Homo sapiens: one gene and its partners. The protein of the gene in region 2 purifies or fractionates together with the protein of the main gene of each other region. This does not show direct contact. Each region holds a gene or a part of one and is shown on either strand. Other genes may lie near its edges.

The links.
Region 1: the proteins of ARL13A (region 2) and INTS12 purify together in Homo sapiens (affinity purification with mass spectrometry; 2 studies listed by BioGRID and IntAct, with this or other methods). This does not show direct contact.
Region 3: the proteins of ARL13A (region 2) and NDUFAF7 purify together in Homo sapiens (affinity purification with mass spectrometry; 2 studies listed by BioGRID and IntAct, with this or other methods). This does not show direct contact.

Annotation. Positions count from the first base shown.
Region 1 is NC_000004.12:105,691,605-105,695,260, reverse strand, and holds part of INTS12 (integrator complex subunit 12), read left to right. Parts: intron 1-1,774; coding exon 1,775-1,962; intron 1,963-3,125; coding exon 3,126-3,285; intron 3,286-3,656. UniProt on the Homo sapiens protein: Component of the integrator complex, a multiprotein complex that terminates RNA polymerase II (Pol II) transcription in the promoter-proximal region of genes.
Region 2 is NC_000023.11:100,983,052-100,986,707, reverse strand, and holds part of ARL13A (ADP-ribosylation factor-like protein 13A), read right to left. Parts: intron 1,042-3,656; coding exon 792-1,041; intron 1-791.
Region 3 is NC_000002.12:37,241,658-37,245,313, forward strand, and holds part of NDUFAF7 (protein arginine methyltransferase NDUFAF7, mitochondrial), read left to right. Parts: coding exon 1-134; exon of another isoform or gene 135-767; intron 768-977; coding exon 978-1,036; intron 1,037-2,205; coding exon 2,206-2,316; intron 2,317-3,656. UniProt on the Homo sapiens protein: Arginine methyltransferase involved in the assembly or stability of mitochondrial NADH:ubiquinone oxidoreductase complex (complex I).

The DNA of each region.
Region 1 (3,656 bases), on a different chromosome or scaffold from region 2:
GTGTAAACTTTAATCTATGCCTCAGAGATCCTAGATGGAACAGTTGTTAAGAAGAAAAGATAGATACACTTTGGGAGGCCGAGGCAGGTAGACTGCTTGAGCTCAGGAGTTCAAGATCAGCCTGGGCAACATGATGAAACCCCATCTCTACAAAAAATACAAAAATCATCTGGGTGTGGTGGCATGCACCTGTAGTCCCAGCTGTTTGTGGGCGGGTGGGGGGTGGGAGGATTGCTTGAGCCCAGGAGGCAGAGATTGCAGTGAGCGGTGATCGTGCCACTGCACTCCAGCCTGGGTGACAGAGTGAGGCGCTGTCTCAAAAAAAAAGGAAAGCAAGAAAGAAAAGATGGGAAAGAGTATAGATGTAAATGACTAAACATAAACTTTATAGAGTGGTATGCACCTGAACAGTGCCAAAGATGATTCTTGGATTGTCTATTTTTAGATGATTTCTACATATAGTAATTAAGATTTTAGTAGTTAGAAAAAAATACATTTGAAAGATATCTTCAGTAACCCTTGCCCTCAAGATGGAGTATATTATCCCGTATGTTTTCATACTTTTGCTAAATAGTGGCTATTCATAAACTACATTAGATTATTTCTCTGTTTTTAGATCTACATAAGTGAAGCTGGGTGTGGTGGCTCATGCCTGTAATCCCAGCACTTTGGGAGGTCAAGGCAGGAGGATCACTTGAGGTCAGCAGGTCGGGAGTTGGCCACCCTGGCCAACATGGCAAAACCCCCTCTCTACTAAAAATACAAAAATTAGCCAGGTGTGGTGGCGCACACCTGTAGTTCCAGCACCTCAGGAGGCTGAGACGTGAGAATCACTCTAACCCAGCAGGCGGAGGTTACAGTGAGCAGAGATTGTGCCACTGCACTCCAGCCTGGGCAACACTGCAAGACTCTGTCTTAAAAAAAAAATTATGTAAATGTTATCATACTGTGTGTGTGTATATCCTTTGGTAACTTTTTCTCCACTCAACTATGTGCTTTTGAAATGTATCTTTGTTAATGCATGTAGATCTAGATTTCTTTTAGCTACTACATAATACCAGTTTATCATTCCCCTACTGATTTATCATAGGGGAATGATTAACCAGTTTATCATTCCCCTACTGATGCACAATTAGATATTTCTCCTTTGTTTCTATTACAATGGAGTTTGAGTGAGCTACTTTATACATATGTCATGTTAATAGTTTCTATAGGATGTATACCTATAAGTGAATATAATAGGATATGACATCTTCAACATTACTAGGCATTGCCAAATTTCTATCAAAAGTAGATGTACTAAATTTACACTGTCATCAACAAAGTATAAGAATTCCAAATTCCATGTCTTATCAGACTTTTTGATTTTTGCCAAATCTAATGGGTATATTGATAATATTTATATCTTAAAGAAGGGAATCCGAATTTGCTTTGAAGCAAATATGTGTTAAGTCTGTATGGTAGATACTAGTCTAAGTAAATCCATCGATCTTCCATAATTCTTTAGTAGATAGAAGAGTACAAAGAGAAATACAAATATTTGTTAAACTGTTCTGATTTATTTATTTCTATCTTGCTGGTTTCATTTAATATACTAATAAATTCATTGCAATTCTTCTACAGATCTTTAATGTGCACATCTGTCCCTAACTATGTGAATATATCTGTAAAATGGACTTGTTCATTGCCAATTGTCCTTCTCACTCGTCTTTCAGTGACTTAAAGTTTATTCTACCACATTACTTTATCATTTTCTGATGCCTGCTTTTTATAGATGAAATCAGACATCACTGAAGGAGTTGATATTCCAAAGAAACCTAGATTGGAGAAACCAGAAACACAGTCATCTCCCATTACTGTCCAAAGTAGCAAGGATTTACCTATGGCTGACCTTTCCAGTTTTGAGGAGACCAGTGCTGATGATTTTGCCATGGAGATGGGATTGGCCTGCGTTGTTTGTAGGTAAGTTGTACCTTGCCACAGATTCTTTTGTTACTTTATAAAGAACACATGACCCTTTCCACTCCTCAACCCCCAAAATCAGAAAAATTGTTGTGCATTTTCTATTTTGTTTTTACTATTTGGAACTGGGGTGGAGATAAGTAGGTAACTGCCCATATAACAATTTAGCATATTGAAAATTGTCAACTATTTTGTCTTTCCCAACTATGGCTTTTAAATCTGTTATGTTGTAACATTTTCTGCATTTTTGGGTTCCAGAGGGAAAGTGATTATTATATTATGATATATATGCCTTTGATAATCTAAGGCTATGGTGATTGCTTTTTGTGCTGTTGAAATTTATACTTTTTTATACACACATGGCTTCATTCTATTAATCTGATCAGACATTTATTGAGCACCCTATGTGTGCACAGTAATGTGCTAAGGACTGTGGATAATTAGGTCCAGTACTCACCTTTAGGTGACTCATATTAATGAAGAACAACAACAACATACAGCTAACTAATATAAGGGAATTTAATGGAGATACAAAATGTTATGAGGCTGTTGGAAGACTAATCAGAGTCTACTACCTTCTGAGAGAAAGGCAAAAATTATGACGAGAAATGACGAGAAAATAGCCAAATTTAATTAAGGCATTCTATATATTTATTAATGGTTGACCATAAGCTTTAAAAGCTTATGCTTTTGTGCATGCCAAGTGTTGGGGTTTGTTATTTGCTCTTTGGGTTTCTGGGATTTTTTTTCTTTTTAATATACCAAACTTTACCAGAACAACCTGGAAATAACTTTTTTTTTTTTTTTTTTTTTTTGAGACAGAGTCTTACTCTGTCACCAAGGCTGGAGTGCAGTGGCATGATCTTGGCTCACTGCAGCGTCCATCTCCTGGGTTCAAGCGATTCTCCTGCCTCAGCCTCCTGAGTAGTGGGGATTATAGGTGTGTACCACCATGCCCAGCTGATTTTTGTATTTTTAGTAGAGACAGGGTTTCACCGTGTCAGCCAGGCTGGTCTTGAACTCCTGACTTCAAATGATCCGCCTGCCTTGGCCTCCCAAAGTGCTGGGATTACAGGCATGAGCCAGCACACCTGGCCCCTGAAATAACTTTAAATTATGGCATTTAAAAAAGTAGTGTAATGTTTAATGGTATGTTTTCTTAGGCAAATGATGGTGGCATCTGGCAATCAATTAGTAGAATGTCAGGAGTGCCATAATCTCTACCACCGAGATTGTCATAAACCCCAGGTGACAGACAAGGAAGCGAATGACCCTCGCCTGGTGTGGTATTGTGCCCGATGTACCAGACAAATGAAAAGAATGGTAGGAATCATATTTTTCTTTATTTTAAACAGTCTGTCAATGTTTTTGTTGGTATGTGCTTTCAAAACAAAGATTTGAATATTTAAGATATTGAAAAAATAAATAATATAAGCTGATTATTTATTTATATGTATAGTATGTACATGTGATTAATATTTCTATTGCTAAAGACCAGACCATGTTATGTGCATTTTTCTCTTTTTAGTTTTATCTAATTCTAATATAGATAAAACAAGATTGGTGACACACAAATTATGAATATTCCTTACTAGTCTGTCAATGTATTGACAAACATTTTAAAATACCATGCAGCACTGAGAAGTGGTGAGATACAAAGCCCCACTCTTTGTTGAGATCTGGTAAGGAAATAT
Region 2 (3,656 bases):
GAGAACAAATTCTACTATAACTGCTACATATCCAGGAATTAGGTTTAAAGACATACCTAATGAGATGAGCTAGACATTTTTCTAGTCAACTTCCAATGATGGAAAGTATAGCACAAATCATTTGAATCCAAGATAGTCCCCCCAGGGCTCATTTCTCACTTCCCCTACATTATGCTATCAAACTTTAATTAGAATTGCTAACTGGGCTATGAACATATTTGGAGTTTTTACATCCTTTCCCAAACTCTGTTCATGCTCTAGTTGGGGTTGCTAATGAGGAATGAAAGAAGCATAAAGGGAGATGGGGGCGGGGATGAGAATTGACTGGCCACCTGCATTATCACCCTGGAATAAGTGCTAGTTATGTAACTTTTGAGCAATCTGATCAGAGAGGAGGTCATTGGCATCAATTATACAAGATAGGAGTTCTCTGCTATCATGAGGTTTCAGGATCAGAGACCGAAACCAGAAAAGATGATAAGCAAATTCAGGAAGATAGTCTTCAGGAAGAGTCAAGGGGTGGAGGTGGTGGATACCACTTTTCATTTCCCTTTGATGCTTCCCTTCAAAATTACCTTTGTACAGTTAGGTAACTTGTCCCCCATGGCAGTGTGTGGTAGAAAGTAGCTCTTGAGAACAAACCTCAGAAAATTGGGCCGCTCTACCTCACTGAGCCTAAGGGAACAGGAGGCCTAGCTGGGTGTGACAAAGGGACCACCCCACCCTTCATTTCTATACTTTTAAGGGTACAAATTGGGAAGCAGAAATAGGACAGAAAGGCAGAATCTTACATTAAGATGGGTTTCCCTGCCACTCTTTTATCGGACAGCAGATGTGTTAAGATGATCTTCACTTCCTGCATGCGTCTTATGTCACTGGAATCCAGGACGAAAACAAGCCCATGGGCCTGTGCATAGTAGTTTGGCCATGCTTCCCGGCCCTTCAGGTCTCCATTCAGGTCATAGATGGAAAGTTCATACTCATCTAACAAAAGTGTAGTCAGTTCCGATTTCATGCAATGGTCTGTCTTACTGGGAAGTACTGTGCATAGGGGAAAAGAGGAGAAGCAATCACTTAGATCGAAACTCCATACTCATCTAACAGGAGTAGAGTCGGTTCCGATTTCATGCAGTTGTCTATCCTGCTGGGAAGTACTATGCAGAGGGGAAGAGAGGAAAAGCAATCACAAAGTAGGGAAATATAGTTAGATCAAATAATTTGTTGAACCCTGACTAGAGCCTGCTCTGAGAAATCCCACTGAAGCATCCTGCCACCCTGCCCATACTTGGGGGCTATCTTCCTAAATCATCGCTTTACCCATGCTATCCTCTCCTGGCTCAGTAACCTTTAGTGAGTGTCCACTGCTTCCAGAGATAATACAGACTCCTTCACCTCCTAACCTGCCAGACCTATCTCCTAGCGCTGTAACCTGACAAGTGTCCACACTGTCCCTAGTACATACCCAATCTGTTCTTCCCTTGGCTCCTTTGCCCTTACTTCTCCCACTCTACATCAATGTCTTGCTCTCTCTTGCCCTGGGATGTTACAAGATGCCATTCTCTCTGCCTAGAACACTTCTACTCTTTGCTTAGTTAATGCCTATTTTTTAAAATGTCAATTTTGATCTTGTTTATTCTGGAGTTTTCCCACACACCAGCCATCTGGATAAGGTACCTTTCTTCTGAGTTTACCATTGTCATAGCACATATTACAGTGTTGTAAATTCTATGGTTTATTTATCTGGGTTGTAAACTGCAACAGGACAGGAACCCTTTCAATTTTATTGAAATTTATTCACCATTACATTCATGATGCCAAGCACATTCATTATTGGATTAATCTGATAAATGAATGAATGAACAGGAGGTCCTTCTCTCCCACCCTTCAATACCCAGCTCAAGTACTGTTTAGGAAGACTTCTCTGGTCTGTCCACTTCTCACTTCTCTCTCTCTTTCTTGTTGAGCACATGGTCTGTTGAGCTGGTCCTTCACCTCTTTTTGTGCTTGCTTTGTCTCTCCAACTAAAACGTAAGCTATATGAGGGAGGATGTCTGTATTACCTTACACACAGTAGGTGTTCAATAAATGTTTATGGTGGTTGTTACTGTAGATGAGGGTATGAAGTTGTCTCCCACATATCTCTTCCAAGAAACCATGCTAGACTTAGACACATTTTCCTTTGAAAAGCTATAGCCAGAACACAAAATCTCATAGGGAATTCCATACCTCATTCAACTCCCATAGAAATGGAGTTGAAAACGGTAGTCTTGGCTGGGCACGGTGGCTCGCGCCTGTAATCCCAGCACTTTGGGAGGCTGAGGCGGGCAGATCACCTGAAGTTAGGAGTTCAAGACCAGCCTGGCCAACATGGCAAAACCCCATCTTTACTAAAAATACAAAAAAAGAAAAAAAAAAACAAAAAACAACTTAGCCGGGTGCGGTGGCACACGCCTGTAATCCCAGCTACCTGAGAGGCTGAGGCAGGAGAATCGCTTGAGCCCTGGAGACAGAGGTTGCAGTGAGCTGAGATTACGCCACTGCACTCCAGCATGGGGGACAAGAGTGAAACTCCATCTCAAAAAAAAAAAACAAAAAACAAAAAAAAAAGAAGGAAAATGGAAAACAGCAGCCTTTATATGCGTTCCAGTCTGTTGAACTGACCGTTCTAGCCTAGCTCTCTTCCCACATTAGTAGCAAAATGACTTTATACATTCTCTGCACCCATACCTGGGAGCACTAAGACTAGAATGCATAACTTCTTATTTGTAGTCTTAGATCTGCATGTGACATTTTCCATAGCATTGCTAAAATGAGTCATTAACGTGAAAAGTTAGTAATATACTTTTGGGTCTTTGGAAATGAGAGTACATATATATGTGTGTATATGTATATATTATTATTATGTTTAAATGTGATTTTCATAACATCTCTTCTGATTTCATGTTAGGCAATGAACTGTTAAATTATAGTTTTCAGATAAAATAATTTTCAGCCAAAACTTTGATGTGATATTTGCTATATCTGTATTAGACTACTCAAAAATAACAAGTGGGCCAGGGACGGTGGCTCACACCTGTAATTCCAGCACTTTGGGAGGCCGAGGCAGGCAGATCACCTGAGGTCAGGAGTTCGAGACCAGCCTGGCCAACATGGTGAAACCCTGTTTCCACTAAAAATACAAAAATTAGCCAGGCGTGGTGGCGGGCACCTGTAATCCTAGCTACTCGGGAGGCTGAAGCAGGAGAATCACTTGAACCCGGGAGGCAGAGGTTGCAGTGAGCTGAGGTCTCACCATTGCACTTCAGCCTGGGTGACAGAGCGAGACGTCTGTCTCAAAAAAAAAAGTGAATAGGTTAAAACTCTAAAGGTAATATTAGAGTTTCCTGCATCGAGAAAAGCTTTATATATTTTTTTTGCCCTGTCAGAGAAAAAAATTTTTTTCCTAGTTTTCTTTTTCTTTTTACTTGAAACCTTACCAGTTCCTTCAGTTAGTGCATTCTATTGTTGGTGAACCCTAGATGCTGTGAGCGGTTGTTCCCTGACAATTTACATTTATCTTATTTCCTCTATTAACGTATAAACACTCTAAGGACCGGTACTGAGTCTGATTTCATTTCTGTATCCCTAGTGGAGTGTTTCATAAAGCATGGTCCGGG
Region 3 (3,656 bases), on a different chromosome or scaffold from region 2:
GATTCAAGCATTGACACTGACTAAAGAGAAGGTCCCGTTAGAGCGAAATGCTGGATCCCCAGTGTATATGAAAGGTGTCACTAAGTCTGGGATTCCAATTTCCTGGTACCGAGATCTGCACGATGTTCCAAAAGGTAATTACCTTTATGTGGATTAATGAAAGAATTTTGATCACAACCCTCACAGTATTGATGGGACTGTAACTTTTTACAGCAATATAATAGATTGAGTTACTGCTGCCAAGTCCCTTATCCATAGAGAGTAGCCTACTTTTTTCTAGAAAAGAGCATCTTAATAGAAAATAAAGTTGCCTGACATTAAGTAGTAGTTTATTTCATGAAGCTTTGTAAAATCCCAAACAAAATGTAAATCTCCTTTGTACTTTTGAGTATTTCCCTATAGCTAGGGTTGTACCGATGACGGAGCAGCCCAAGGCAGCTGGGGCTGATGGAAGCAGTGTTAGTAGGTGGGTTTAGTTCAGTTATAGAGTCTTTTAAAAAATCCTTACTTGCCTAAAGACAAGCAAGGTGTGGGGGAAAATCCCTGTACTAGTCAGGAATACTGACTAGTATTGACTAGTTTGAGTCTTGACTCAAAGCCAAAGTGGGGGTACGATCTTGGGTAAGGGATCTCAAGCCATTCCTGCCTCAGCCTTCTCAGGCTGAGAAGCCCGATTTTATGAAATCAAATTCCCTTCCAGCTAACAACTCTGACTTCTAATTTCTTTCAAGCCTTGTGATGAATAAAAGCTTTAACTGCTATTTCAGGTATTTCCATTTTCTGACCCCATTTATGTGTAAAATAAGAATAGTAATAATTGTTCTATGTTCTGCAGTGTAAGTTTTCCATGAAGAGGTAGATAATTCTGTGGTAGTGATGATTATGGAGGAAGTAGGCATTTTTTTTACAGTTAATATTCAAAAGAATTAATTCCTGTGAAATGTGGAAACATTAATTGTTTTCCTCTTTTTAAATAGGGTACAGCTTTTATCTTGCACATGAATTTTTTGATGTTCTTCCTGTGCATAAATTTCAGGTATTGAGGGGGGAAAAAAGTCATGTCTATAATTGAATACAAAAGGCATTGTGTTGCCAATGTTTATGGTATTTATTCAGTATACAAATTTTACTTGTTGAGGTTATTTTTAACTATTATTTGGAATTTTGGTACACAAATAATTCAAAAGCAAAAAATGAAATATTAATGAGAATTGTTAGTTCTCCTGGGATAATTATTAAGAATTCTTAATTCTTCTGATTTGAAGAAGTAAGGGAATGAAAAATGGTAAGATGGTAACTGGCTGTGGTGCAATGAAGGATTTACTTAAGCAAAAAAAAAATTTTCTTTTTTAAGAGATAGGGTATTGCTATGTTGCCCAGGCTGGTCTTGAACTCCAGGGCTCAAGTGTTCATCCTGCCTCAGCATCCCAAGGAGCTGGGACTACAGGTGTGCGCCACTGCACCCAGCCAACCTTAGCACATTTTAAAAAATTATAGATTAAACTTTTTTGGGCCAGGCATGGTGGCTTACACCTGTAATCTCAGCACTTTGGGAGGGCGAGGTGGGTGAATCACTTGAGGTCAGGAGTTCAAGACCAGCCTGGCCAACATGACAAAACCCTGTGTCTACTAAAAATAGAAAAATTATCTGGGCTTGGTGGCACGTGCCTGTACTTCCCAGCTACTAGGGAGGCTGAGGCATGAGAATCACTTGAACCCAGGAGGCAGAGGTTGCAGTGAGCTGAGATTGCACCACTGCACTCCAGCCTGGGCAACAAAGCGAGAGCTTGTCTCAAAAAAAAAATAATAAAACTTTTCTTCATTCTTTCTGTGAGGAGATTTAAGATTTGGTGATAATGTATATGTACTGGTAATTTGTGAGGAGAAGAGCAGCTCTCATGATCCTGTAGTAATTTGTTAGTAAAGCTTCTGGCTGTTCTTCCTGAGTCTATTTCCGTTTTTGGGGTACTTTCCATGCTGCTGATTTTATCTTCCACAGCGTCATCTCTGTTATTGTTTCTTTTGCATCGATTGGTCTACTCATTGTTCAAAGGCAATGAAGTAATGAATTTAAGTAATTTTAAATAGTAAGTTCTCTGTAAATGTTAGTTACTTATGGTAAGAGGAGAAAAAGCTATTTTTGGTAGAAGCAATGTAGAGAACAAACTTGCAAAAATTTGTTTTTATGTGTTATTTTGTGTTTAGAAAACACCACAGGGATGGCGAGAAGTATTTGTTGACATTGATCCACAGGTTTCTGATAAACTGAGGTTTGTTTTGGCACCTTCTGCCACCCCAGCAGAAGCCTTCATACAAGTAAGAATATGCTTTTTTAAGTTTCTTTTATTGCTCACAGAATCTTCAAAGTCTTATTTTCTGAGTTACTACTTTAGAGTTTTAGAGTTCCTTTACAGGAAGAGTTGCTAGTAGCATACGAGGTGCTTTTTATTGACAGTGAAAGTGCAGAGGAGCTAGAGGCAGGAGCATGGGTTAAAATCATTTCTTAAGTGTGTGACCTTAACGTCATGTAGTAAGAGAAAGTAAGTAACCGCTTACTCAGCCAAGTCTCTTACTTTCACTGCTTATCTCAGTTTCATGTCAAATGGTAATGGTATTGTCCACAGGAAGAGTTTACATCTGTGAAAGCAATGTAGTACAGACTATAGTAAATTAACAATAACAGCTAACGTTTGTTGAGTACTTTGTGTTACTCTGTTTTCTCATTTAATTCTCAAAGCAACTATATTAGGTAGGTTCTATTATTATCCTTCTTTGGGCTACAGCATGGCTTTTATCCCATGCTTCCACACAGATCTCAGTTTGATTCGGCCAGAATGGTAGAATTACTACTGCTTTCTGTTGATCTCAAGGAATCATTGCAAGAGCCTGTCTATTGTGGCTTGTTTAAAGGTACAAAAAAATCCCTGTACTTCTCAGGAACGTCCAGGCTTCAGACTGCCTCTTTTTTTTTAATCCTTTTTTTCCAGCTCAGAAGATGATTTTTACTTTCTGGACCTTAACTGAGAACTTCTTACTTAGAAATTATCAGTTTTAAAAGCACAAGAGCTTTTAAACTTAAATGTATGAATTAAGTTTTGTTAAGTATAAATTTAAATGTCAGACTGAACACTTATGAACACCTGTTTTTTCATAGTATAGCAATCTAAGTTTACCTGAATGACATATTCATAGAACTACCAAGAACTAACCTCCTGGCCCTGGGAGTTCATTTAGTTCTTGACCTAATTAGTATTCACTTAGGAAGGGAGGGAGCGAATATTCTCTTTCACTTGAATGAGATGCGTGGTAATACATGTCATCTTGAAGAGTAGCCTAAGATAGAATGTCAGCATGATCAGCGTGTCCACTGATGCCTGATGAGGCTGACTTCATGGTTTTTATAGTTAAGCCACAGTAATTTGATTGCACTATTAGCTAAATGGTTAGTTATATTTAATCCTCACAATAAACCTACAATATCTATAAGGAAGAAAACAACTCAGAAAGTTTAAGTAACTTGTCTACCAGTAAGCATAGGAAGAGCTGAGATTTAACTTCATCTGACTCTATGCCTGTTACCATAGGCAGACATCAGGGCAGGTCATTACTGCATTTCTATAATAAGGTGTTAGGAAGGAGTACAAGTTAATGTATGT